2 separate regions of the Homo sapiens genome follow, and region 2 is linked to region 1. Evidence: fine-mapped expression QTL. A gene starts in region 1. The other region holds a variant in brackets. All regions are shown on one strand. Distances are between the middles of the regions.

Evidence for each region. PIP is the estimated chance that this variant, and not a neighbour inherited with it, causes the effect. A credible set is the group of variants that fine-mapping cannot tell apart.
Region 2: its variant is the best candidate, but not a certain one, in a credible set for the expression of MPZL3 in monocytes (Quach 2016, PIP 0.57).

What each region holds. Positions count from the first base shown.
Region 1 is chr11:118,249,409-118,254,799 of GRCh38, forward strand. MPZL3 (myelin protein zero like 3) reads right to left here and starts at 2,957. Exons shown (of 6, transcript NM_198275.3): 1 at 2,814-2,957. The coding sequence starts at 2,886. It overlaps MPZL2 (myelin protein zero like 2), which reads right to left. Exons shown (of 6, transcript NM_005797.4): 6 at 4,008-5,391. RefSeq lists enhancers at 2,277-2,838, 2,440-2,489, 2,839-3,399.
Region 2 is chr11:118,278,128-118,283,518 of GRCh38, forward strand. No RefSeq gene overlaps it. Among named protein-coding and RNA genes, the nearest start is that of MPZL2, 17 kb to the left of the region's middle. The variant A/AT (reference allele first, on the strand shown) is at 3,110.

The DNA of each region.
Region 1 (5,391 bases):
TAAAAAAAATACCAATCCAACATTAATTCACTCAGAAATGTCCATCCCAGGCCTAATGCCTTTATCTCTTCATCTGAGCAGAAAAGCATTCTTGCCAGGTAAAAACAGCCAACTATAGAAATACTCATAATAATTAACAAAAACTTTTTAGTCTGGGGAAAAAACAAGAAAATCACATTTTCACATAAGTAATTTTACACATGAAAGAATTAAATGTGTCAATAAAGCCCCCAATCTTGTATGCCCCATTTTCTAAAATACAAATCTACTGATATTTTATTCATATTGCACACCTAAGTAAAAGAGAGAAAAGTTTAAGAAACCTAGGTCCCCTAGTCTACCATTTCTAAATACTTAGATAACTGATATAGCAGGACCAGACTTATAACTTAAGGAGAATTCAAATAATCTAATAATTTAAGTGGTCTTATCTTTGAAAACAAAAGGCAAATAAACACTGACATGAAACCAAACTCAACCACATAAGATTTAAAACACCAAACAAATGGATGAACCTTGAAAACATGCAAAGTGAAAAAAGCCAGTCACCAAAAGCACATATTGTGTAATTCCATTTACTTTATTTTTATTTATTTATTTATTTATTTATTGAGGCAGGATCTCATTCCATCGCTCAGGCTGAAGTGCAGTGGTGCAATCCCAGATCACTGCAACTCCGACCTCCCAGGTTCAAGTGATTCTTCTGCCTCAGCCTCTCAAGAATCTGGGATAACAGGGGCATGTCACCACACCTGGCTAATTTTTTTTTTTTTTTTTTTTTTTTTTTGTATTTTTTGGTAGAGATAGGGTTTTACCACGTTGGCCAGGCTGGTCTCAAACTTCTGACCTCAAATGATCCACCCACCTCGGCCTCCCAAAGTGCTAGGATTACAGATATTATTCTATTTATATGAAATGTCCAGAATAGGCAAATCAATAGATACAAAAAAATAGACTGGTGGTTGCCAGGGGCTAAGGGAAATGGAGAGTGAGGAGTGATTGTTAATGGGTATCAAGTTTCTCTTTGGGGTGATGAAAATGTTCTAAAATTGATAGTGGTAATTATTGCATAACTGTGAATATACTAAAAACCATTCAATTATGCCCTTTAAGACAGTAAATTGTATGGCATGTGAATAATATGATAAACCAGTTGTTTCTTTTTTGTTTGTTTTTGTTTTTGTTTTTTGAGACGGAGTTTCTCTCTTGTCGCCCAGGCTAGAGTGCAATGGCGAGATCTCAGCTCACTGCAACCTCTGCCTCCTGGGTTCAAGCGATTCTCCTGTCTCAGCCTCCCGAGTAGCTGGGATTACAGGCGCCCGCCACCACGCCTGGCTAATTTTTTTTGTATTTTTTAGTAGAGACGGAGTTTCACTATGTTGGTCAGCCTGGTCTCGAACTCCTGACCTCAGGTGATCCAGCTGCCTCGGTCTCCCAAAGTGCTGGGATTACAGGCAAGAACCACCACACCCTGCCACCAGTTATTTTTTAAAAGGCAAAAAATCTATTCCACAAGTACATAGAGATTGTAAAATCAACTTTAAATGTTTGATTGAATTATATGGTCTGCTGGACTTGACAGATGCTCTTCAAAGCAAAATGACATTAGATTTAAGAAAACACCATTTCCAGATTTTTTTTCTCAATAAGACAATATTTGAATATTTCTCGTGTGTGTGTGTGTGTGTGTGTGTGTGTGTGTGTGTGTGTGAAAGAGAGAGAGAGAGGACTGGGTTTATTAGGAGTGACAGTAGGCCAGCCTAAATATCATACTGCAAAGTAATTTAGCTTAAAAACTGGAGACTTATGATGACACAGGCAGCTGGGAGGGATCGGGGGTGTGCTGGCAACATGAATATTAGTCACCAGTTAAAAACTTTCCAGCCTTAACTGCTAAGATTTAGGACATCTGAAGTCTTTATATTAAACTATTTATATTTATATAATATTAAATATCTCTTTCAGAAATCCCCATTACCCTCAAGGAAATTTTATAAATTTAGCAATTCACTCTAATACTAGATATACTAATATTTTATTTCCCAGGAAGACACACATACACAAAATCCAGGAAATAATTGTACCTTAAGATGAAGGTAATTAGGCTGGATTGAAATTTATGCAATTTGAAAATTATATGAAAGCAAAACTCACCTAATTTTAAGATGTGAATGTCAGTGTGAATACCCTACTTCTGATATTACTTAATAAATTTTAACAGAATTTATATGCTCTTTCTTGTATTAAAAAAAGTTATGAAAATGCTAAAGCAGTTACTTTTTCATCGATATGCTTCTCTATAACGAATCACATCACATCCCTTCTGTGACTAGCAAATATTTCATTTTATAGACTACAATAATCACCTACAAAAAATAAAATTACCAACTGTCATGATTTTGTTTCCCAAAACTACTGGGGCAAACTACTGAATGCTAGAACTGTTTTCTTTCTAATCAGGGTATACAGCGCCCAAACGACAGCGGTCAACCACTGATAATAACACCACAAAATAACACCGGGTGCCCCCAAAGCCAGAGCTCTTTGTGGTTCCATCAAGTATGCTATCACCAAACTACAATGACAGGTCACGCAAGGTGAAAAAGCTCCCAAAGCTCAGGAAAGGACTGACAAAATACCAACTATCCTCAACGGGGTGGTGATGACATCGTCCCAACGTCCCGCTCCCTCCCTCCTTCCTTCCCAGAGCTATGCGGGGGCTTTCTGGAGACCCCCCTACCCGGAACCGGAAAAGCGACCATCTTCCCTAACCCCCCGGCCGGAAGTGGAGCGTAGCCAGCCGGAGCACTCACCCTGGAAGAACAGGACGCCCAGCAGAGGGAAGAGAGCGCAGCCACGGCTTCCAGCTGCTCCTCTCTGCTGCATCCCGGCAGCTCTTCAGATGCTTGCACACCTTGTTTACAGCTCCCGGTAACGACACAGGTAACACCGGAAGTGACGTCAGAGCAGGAGGCCGAGAGACAACTTAAATGGCGATCCGAAGTTACCATAGGAACCTGGCTTCTTTCCAGAACCACACCTGGTTTCACTGACCAGAGATTTATTAACTTTCAGGCGGGAGCTAAATGCTCTCTTTTGCTTGAAAATGAAGTAGGCTACGGACTTGGAATAATTACAATTTTGTTTTTATGGAATTCTGCAGAACTAAATAATTTTGATGCTCTGACTGCATGTCAGACATCGTTTTTACGTCTCGAGATTTAGTTGAAGGTTCTCAGAATACACTACTGTAAATTTAGAGTTCAGAAACACCTGGGAGATCATACAGTATAGATAAATATATATTAGGTGCTTGTAGTGATATGTGCCACAAGCCTCATTGGTTGGTGTCCTTTTTAGTGTAAGTATTGCAGCCTCCAAAATTGGGTGTTTATTAAATTACTTTTGGCGGTGGCAATGATGATCAAATCATTACAGCCTGTATTAGAGGAAAAGAGGAACTGGGATTTCTGTGTCTTTGGTTGGAAAAGTAAGAAAGTTATGTTATCACAGTACTTGAAGTGAGATGGCGTCACATACTTCTGAAAAAGAGATGGTACAATAAGTACACTGCTTTAATAATCAGTAAGCCTCTTCCCTGGAAATTGCCACATGTCAATGAAAGCAGGAGGAGAATAAAAGTATGCTTTCGCTTTGGGGAAGAATTAATAAGTTTCCATTTTTCAATTTCCATTCCTTTACTAGACTTGAAAGCCAGTAGTTTTCCCTATTAAAAGTGTAATGCAAAGTACTAAATAGAATCTTTGATACTTTTCTTTGAAAGAGCCCTCAAACTAAGTAGTGTTGTTATGCCCAATTCCCAGCTATCCAAAACAGTGTGAAAATTCTGTGGAAATCCGTATACTTCTGTTTACCCATTAGAAACTAACTGTATCCATTATTGACTTGCAGGTTGTCTCTACTAAGAAAACTTTTTGGTAAAGATTAAATATATATCCATCTGTTTTTCCTGCAATGTAGAACTTCTAGATATGTATATACACAAATTATATAACTGATAATTCTTTATTACTAAAGGTTTATTTACATAGTGTTTAAAGCATAATAAAAAATAAATTACAATACAAAAGTGCTCTTTAGGAAGGAGACACTAAACAACAGGCCCATATTACCCCTTGACTATTTAGCCAAGACATAAGCTACAAATTTTGCCGGAAAAACTGTCCATACATTTTTAACTACTTCTTCATTATTCTTATGGACCATCATCCAGGACATCTGTTTGAAGAAATATCCAGTTATAATATTTTCAAAGGTTAGAATTGTGAAGAAAAAATATAAAATGTGATTAAAGGATATATAGCCTTCAGATGTAATTTACAGTTTTAAAATTGCACTTTAAAACTTTGCTTTTTTAGACAGTATAAAAGGCAGAATGAGACAGATATGTAATGAATTTCAGAACTGAGGTTCATATGTAAATCATACAATTTTTTAAAAAATAGTATTGGAAAAATATCAAGGTCTATACATTTAAATACAGATAATCTGTTTGAAAATTCCAGTTTGTTAAAAGAAAAAACATCTGCAGTCCAGTCGATTAAAAACTGAAAATATCAATCTGTAAAGATTGATCTTGAGCCTAAACTTTTAGATGCTTTCTATCCTTTGAACAAATGCTTCTGTATCTTAAGCTTGTAACTTTTCTTTCAATAGCCCACTTATAAAGTTTGCTTTATCTACCAGTATGGGGGAAAAAAAGAATAAAGTTGGTTTTATTCCATTTAAAGTAGTTTTGGTATTTCTTTGCTCCATACCAAAGTCTTCCTCCCCCAAAATAAACAAGTGAATTAGAATTAAAAAAGAAAAAAAGTTAATAATTTCTTCTAGTTCTCAGAGTTTTATATAAAACTGTACAAAATTATCATCATTTAGAGTTGATTTTTTTCACCAGCCCTGAATTTTCAAACTTGTAATATGCTGTTTCACAATTTTTTTATTAAATTACTTAATGATTCCAGTCTGCAAATGAGCATAGACTTTGCTCTGTTGTTATAGATCATTGAATTGGGGGGGAAACATAGTAAGCTAAACTATCCGTCACTGCTCATGAAAGACCCACATTGTTGATTATTTTTCCCAGCACAGAAGAAAAGTGACAAGTGATTCATCCTGCAATGGCCTCTGCCAATCTTTTCATATCTATGTAACCTTTTGTAGTTACTGTGTGATTTAGCGTTGTGCTATTGTAAATCTTGGATTAATTAACAAAACAACAAAAATCTATCACCTGGAATATTGAAAGAAATTCAGTAAAACAAGATGTGTCTCATAGTTAAGGAGAGACATAAAAATAAAAATGTCATTTAACAGTTTGAATTTAGGATTTACTGTTAATCAGAAACACCGAGGAGGCTTAGCTCACCTTTT
Region 2 (5,391 bases), 29 kb after region 1:
TCCCAAAGTGTTGGAATTACAGACATGAGCCACTGCATCCAGCCTTGAGATTTTTACTGATGGCAAATCCTCATGCTTTTGAGAATGGGCTTGATTTTTGGACACATTTAAAAGTCATGTAGATCAAATCCAAAGAAAGTAAGAAAGTGAATGACCAAACCAGGCACTGATTATAAAATCATAAGTATGATGACTTGTGAAATGCATAAATGGTCCCTGAGGATCCTTTAAAAGACAGGATTCTCTTTAAAAGCTCTTTAGGCCAGGATCGGTGGCTCATACCTGTAATCCCAGCACTTTGAGAGGCTGAGGTGGGCGGATCATTAGATCAAGAGATCGAGGCCATCCTGGCCAACATGGTGAAACCCCGTCTCTACTAAAAATACTAAAATTAGCTGGGCATGGTGGTGTGTGCCTGTAGTCCCAGCTACTCAGGAGGCTGAGACAGGAGAATTGCTTGAACCCAGGAGATGGAGGTTGCAGTGAGACGAGATCACGCCACTGCACTCCAGCCTGGGCAACAGAGCAAGACTCTGTCTCAAAAAAAAAAAAACCTCTTTAAAAACTGTTTTGTGCATAACTATAATAAAGGTATAATTTTCCATTTACTTTAAGGTCTCTTATCTTATTAAGCTGGATGTATACCTTAACTGGCTCTTCTTAATTCACAGATTAAGGCCTTTCATGATCTGCCTCTGTCAACTAACCAGCCCCTCTTTCCCCACTTTCCAGGCTCCTTAAGCCTTATTCATCACTATGCCAAACTAATCACATACTTGTTCTTACCTCCACATATATATTTGTGCATATGTTCTGTCTACTTTATCCAGCTGATCAACTCTTATTTGCCTTTCAAAATTAAGTTCACATTCCATGAAGCCTTCCCTGTCCCCTGGACCTGGAGTTAATAGTTCCCTTAGCACCTTGGGACACCTTTTTTATAGCCTTTGCTGCACTGTATGGTCATTACTTGTTTACACGTCTGCCTCTACTGTAGACTGAATCCCTCCAGGGCAGGGTTCATGTCTCTGTATCCCCAACACCTAACTGTTAGGCACATAGTAGATGCTCAATACGCATTTGCTGGATGAGTGAATGCATTCTTACTGAAGCATCTGTGTGCCCCACACCTCAGTGATGCTAAGCAGTATGGAGCTCCCACTGTTGGAACCTAAAGAAGTTTACTAAGGAAGTGAAGTGACAACCTAAAACTCAGTCCCAGCTTTAACTTGGCTTATCTTTGCATCTAAGTGAAGATCATCTCTAAGACTGGGATATCTACACTGAACAAGGGCTTCCCACCTTCCTCTGTTTTCAGCCTAGGTGCAACCATGAAAGGAAAGGAGCAAATGTAATCTGTATCATAATATATTCTATTTGAACATGATTAAATTAAAACTAATTGATAATGTCGATTAAATAATAAACACTAATTAAATACTAATTGTCAGAATGTGTCTCCTACTTTTATTCACTCTTTATAAGTTTTAATTACTAAGTTAATGATCAAGAATGGTACTATGTTGGGCTGAAACCTAGGATTTGGAATATACCCATTCATTCATCTACCAAATAATGTTTAAATTGAATTTAAAAACTAAGGCTGAATAATTATAGAGCACCTGTTATATGTCTAACACTGTGCTGAAAAAAAATATATGAAGATGCCATATTTAGCTTCATGGAATTCACAACCCAGATACTAGAACCTTCCATCTGCAAAGCTCTTTGCAAAGCATTTGAATACATTGTATCATTTAATTCTCACTATTCTATTCTACCCAATTTTCCTCATCTACTTTAGATAAGGAAAATGAGGATGACAGAGATGAAACAGTTTACCCAGTTACTCAGCTCACTCTGGCTAGAAAATAAATGGAAAAATTAGGGCTGAATCTGGGAGTTCTGTCTCTAAATCCAAAGCTTTTCTCATGGGCTCACACAAAGTCAATAATTTTTTTTTTTTTTTTTTTGCTTTTTACTATGGAACATTTCAAACATATACAAATGTAGATAAAATAATATAACAAACCCCATGTCCTATCACCCAGCCCTTATTATCAGCAACCCATGGTCATTTATGTCTTTATCTACCCACCCAATATTATTTTGAAGCAAATTGAAGATACCATATCATTTTGCCCATAAATATAACTTCTGTTAAAAGATAAACTTTGGCACACTTTAAAACTTTGAAGAGTTTATTTGAGCAAACAGCAATTCATTGATCAGGCTGCTCCAAACTGGAAATGGTTTGGGCTTCGAGGACGGAGCAAGAGGGGAAGGCTCTAATAGGGTAAATGCAGAAGCAGAGCAAAGAAATTATTTGATTGGTTAAACTTCCAGAATTTCCTTATTTAGACTATCCAATAGGAAGTTAAAGACAATATAACTAATGCCCAGATGGCCTTCTGTGATTGGCTAAGTTTCTTTTAAATTAACTGCTTACAGGAAATGAGACTGAGTTAGGTTTTAGCTTGCTTAGTAGGAACTTAGTTAGAGCCTCCTCAGTCTAATGCCCCCCCCATTTAATTATTTAAATACTTCAACACCATTATCATATTTTATTTTATATTTTTAGAGATGGAGTCTTGCTCTGTCACGCAGGCTGGAGTGCATGGCACAATCAATTATCTTGCCTCAGCCTCCCAAGTAGCTGGGACCACAGGAGTGCACCACCATCCCTGGCTAATTTTTTTTTTATCTTATAGTAGAAACAGTCTGTCTATGTTACCCAGGCTGGTCTTGAACTCTTGGCCTCAAGCAATCCTCCTGCCTCGCCCTTCCAAAGCGCTGGGATTACTGGCCTGAGCTACCATATCCAGTCTCCATTATCATATTCTAAGAGAATTAGCATTTCCTAAATGTCAAATAACCAGTGTTACAATTTCCAGTTATCTCATAAATGTTATAACATGTTTTTACAATTTGTTTATTTGAATGAAGGTCCAAATAAGGTCTAAAATTTGCAATTGGTCTTTATGTTTCCTAGATCTCTCTTAATCTATGGGTTCCTTATTATCTTTTATTATTATTCCTTATTATTTTTTGTTTCCTTGCAATTTACATTTAAAGAAATTGAGTCATTTGTCTCATGGTTTTCCACAGT[A/AT]TTTTTTTTTTTTTTTGCCTGCATCACGAAGGTGTTGTTTAATATGTTCCTCTGTATTTCCTATAGACTGGTATTGTATTTAAAGCAGTAGTTTTCCATTTTTAGTGAGCATCAGAATCACCTGAATGATTTGTCGCAACAGGTTGCTGGGCCCCACCCTCAGAGTTTCTGATTCTGGTCTGGGAAAGTCCCAAAAGTTTGCATTTCCAGCAACTTCCTGTGTGCTTGATGCTGACCACTCCTTGAAAGCTATTGATGTGGACTGAACTGAGGCTCAATCAGATTGAAATCTGACTTTTTTAAAGCAAGACTACCTCACAGGCAGTGTTGTGGTCTTCCTCCAGGAGGAATATAGTATGTGGTTGTCTCCTTTGTGTGTTTGATGTCAGTAGCCTTTGATGCTCAGTGCCCAGATCCATTCATTCATTTGGTGTGCAAAGTGATGATCTTCTAATCATATCATCCCTACTTTATTTATTAGCTAGACTATTTCTAGAAACAGAAACTCCCTCATCTACAAAGTGACTACTCACTGGGATGGTTCATATAGAAAAGATCGATTTTGAGGCCGGGCATGGTGGCTCACGCCTGTAATCCCAGCACTTTGGGAGGCCGAAGAGGGCAGATCACGAGATCAGGAGATCTAGACCATCGTGGCTAACATGGTGAAACCCCGTTGCTACTAAAAATACAAAAAATTAGCCGGGCGTGGTGGCGGGCGCCTGTAGTCCCAGCTACTCAGGAGGCTGAGGCAGGAGAATGGCGTGAACCCAGGAGGCGGAGCTTACAGTGAGTCGAGACCGAGCCACTGCACTCCAGCCTGGGCGACAGAGCTAGACTCCGTCTCAAAAGAAAAAAAAAAAGAAAAGAAAAGATCGATTTTGAGCACAATGCATTGGTTCACTAGCATCTTCCAATGATTAGCAATGAGAGTTTTTTGTTTTTAGTGTTATTACACATAATGACATTGTGACATAATGACCAGCCATTCCCCAGTCTCTCTTCACAGGCCTCCCAATTCCCTGAGACACATGATATTGAAATTAGGCCAATTAAACCCTACAATGGCCTCTAAGTGTTCAAGTGAAAGGTAGTTAACACACCTCTCACTTTAAATTGAAAGCTAAACATAGCATTAAATATATTTGATGTGTTTCAAACAACATCATTATTATTCTTATTGATTCTCAAATTTTCTCATCTTTGGCCATCGGGAGCCTCTTCAAGTTGGAAGAGGCTCTTCCAGCTTCAAGTGCATCCTTGCAAGGTGTGTTTGCTGCATTCTTTATGAATGTTAAAGTCTGCTATAGAAAGTAAGAGAAGGAAACAAATATGGAGACTAGATGAAATTAAGTGTAGAAGCAAGTAGCTTGTAAGACGTGTTAGACCTTGGTAAGTAGAGCAGATTTATGCTGATATAAGAAGGGATGGACAGACCAAGTAGACACAAGACACAGGAAACACCAAATATTTATGAGGCACTGAATATTCACAAAAATTTAAACCAGCCATCCCGTTGTGACACCCATTCTGGCAATCTGCATCCTCTGCCTGAGATATGCAGATAAAACCCATAGCTGCCCAACAGGGTAATCGGCAAGCTACAGCTGTAGCCAAGGATTCTTGCCCTTGCCTTCCTACAATAGAGCAAGAGTGTTTGGGCTCCAGGCCCAGTCAATTTGCTGAGTCCTCTTGCTCATCCACAACTCAGGTCCTTGTAACCATCGGTGGGGAAGGCTGATGCAATAGAAAGATTCGGCATATGAGCGTTACATAACACAGAACTCACATAGGGTACTTCTTCCACCCTGTGCTAAGGGTGTTAACCTTCCTCATCTCTTTTCCATTGCTTCTTACTAAACATTTTAATTGAGTTGATAAACCAAGTGATTCAGGATCGTAATTTTGTCTGTGAGCCATTCTGTTCTGTGACCTCTGGGATAGCTTGTTATGTAATATGTTAGAAGGTTATCATTGCACCAAGGTAATTCCTCATGTGACAGTCCTTTTGACCCATATGACGAGATGTTCCAGGCTCATCTTGAACACTTCTTGCCATAGACTTAAAATCATCCGCAATTCTTCAAGGATCCCTGATTTCTTTTAGTGGGAAATGGTGTTTGAACCTACAATCTGGGCATTAAGGATACACTGCTACGAGGGTGTTAAATTATTTTTGTGACTCATCTACTGCTTTATGCTGTATAGGCAGACCTCATTTTATTGCACTTCACTTTATTGCACTTTGCAGGTATTGTGTTTTTTACAAATTGAAGGTTTGT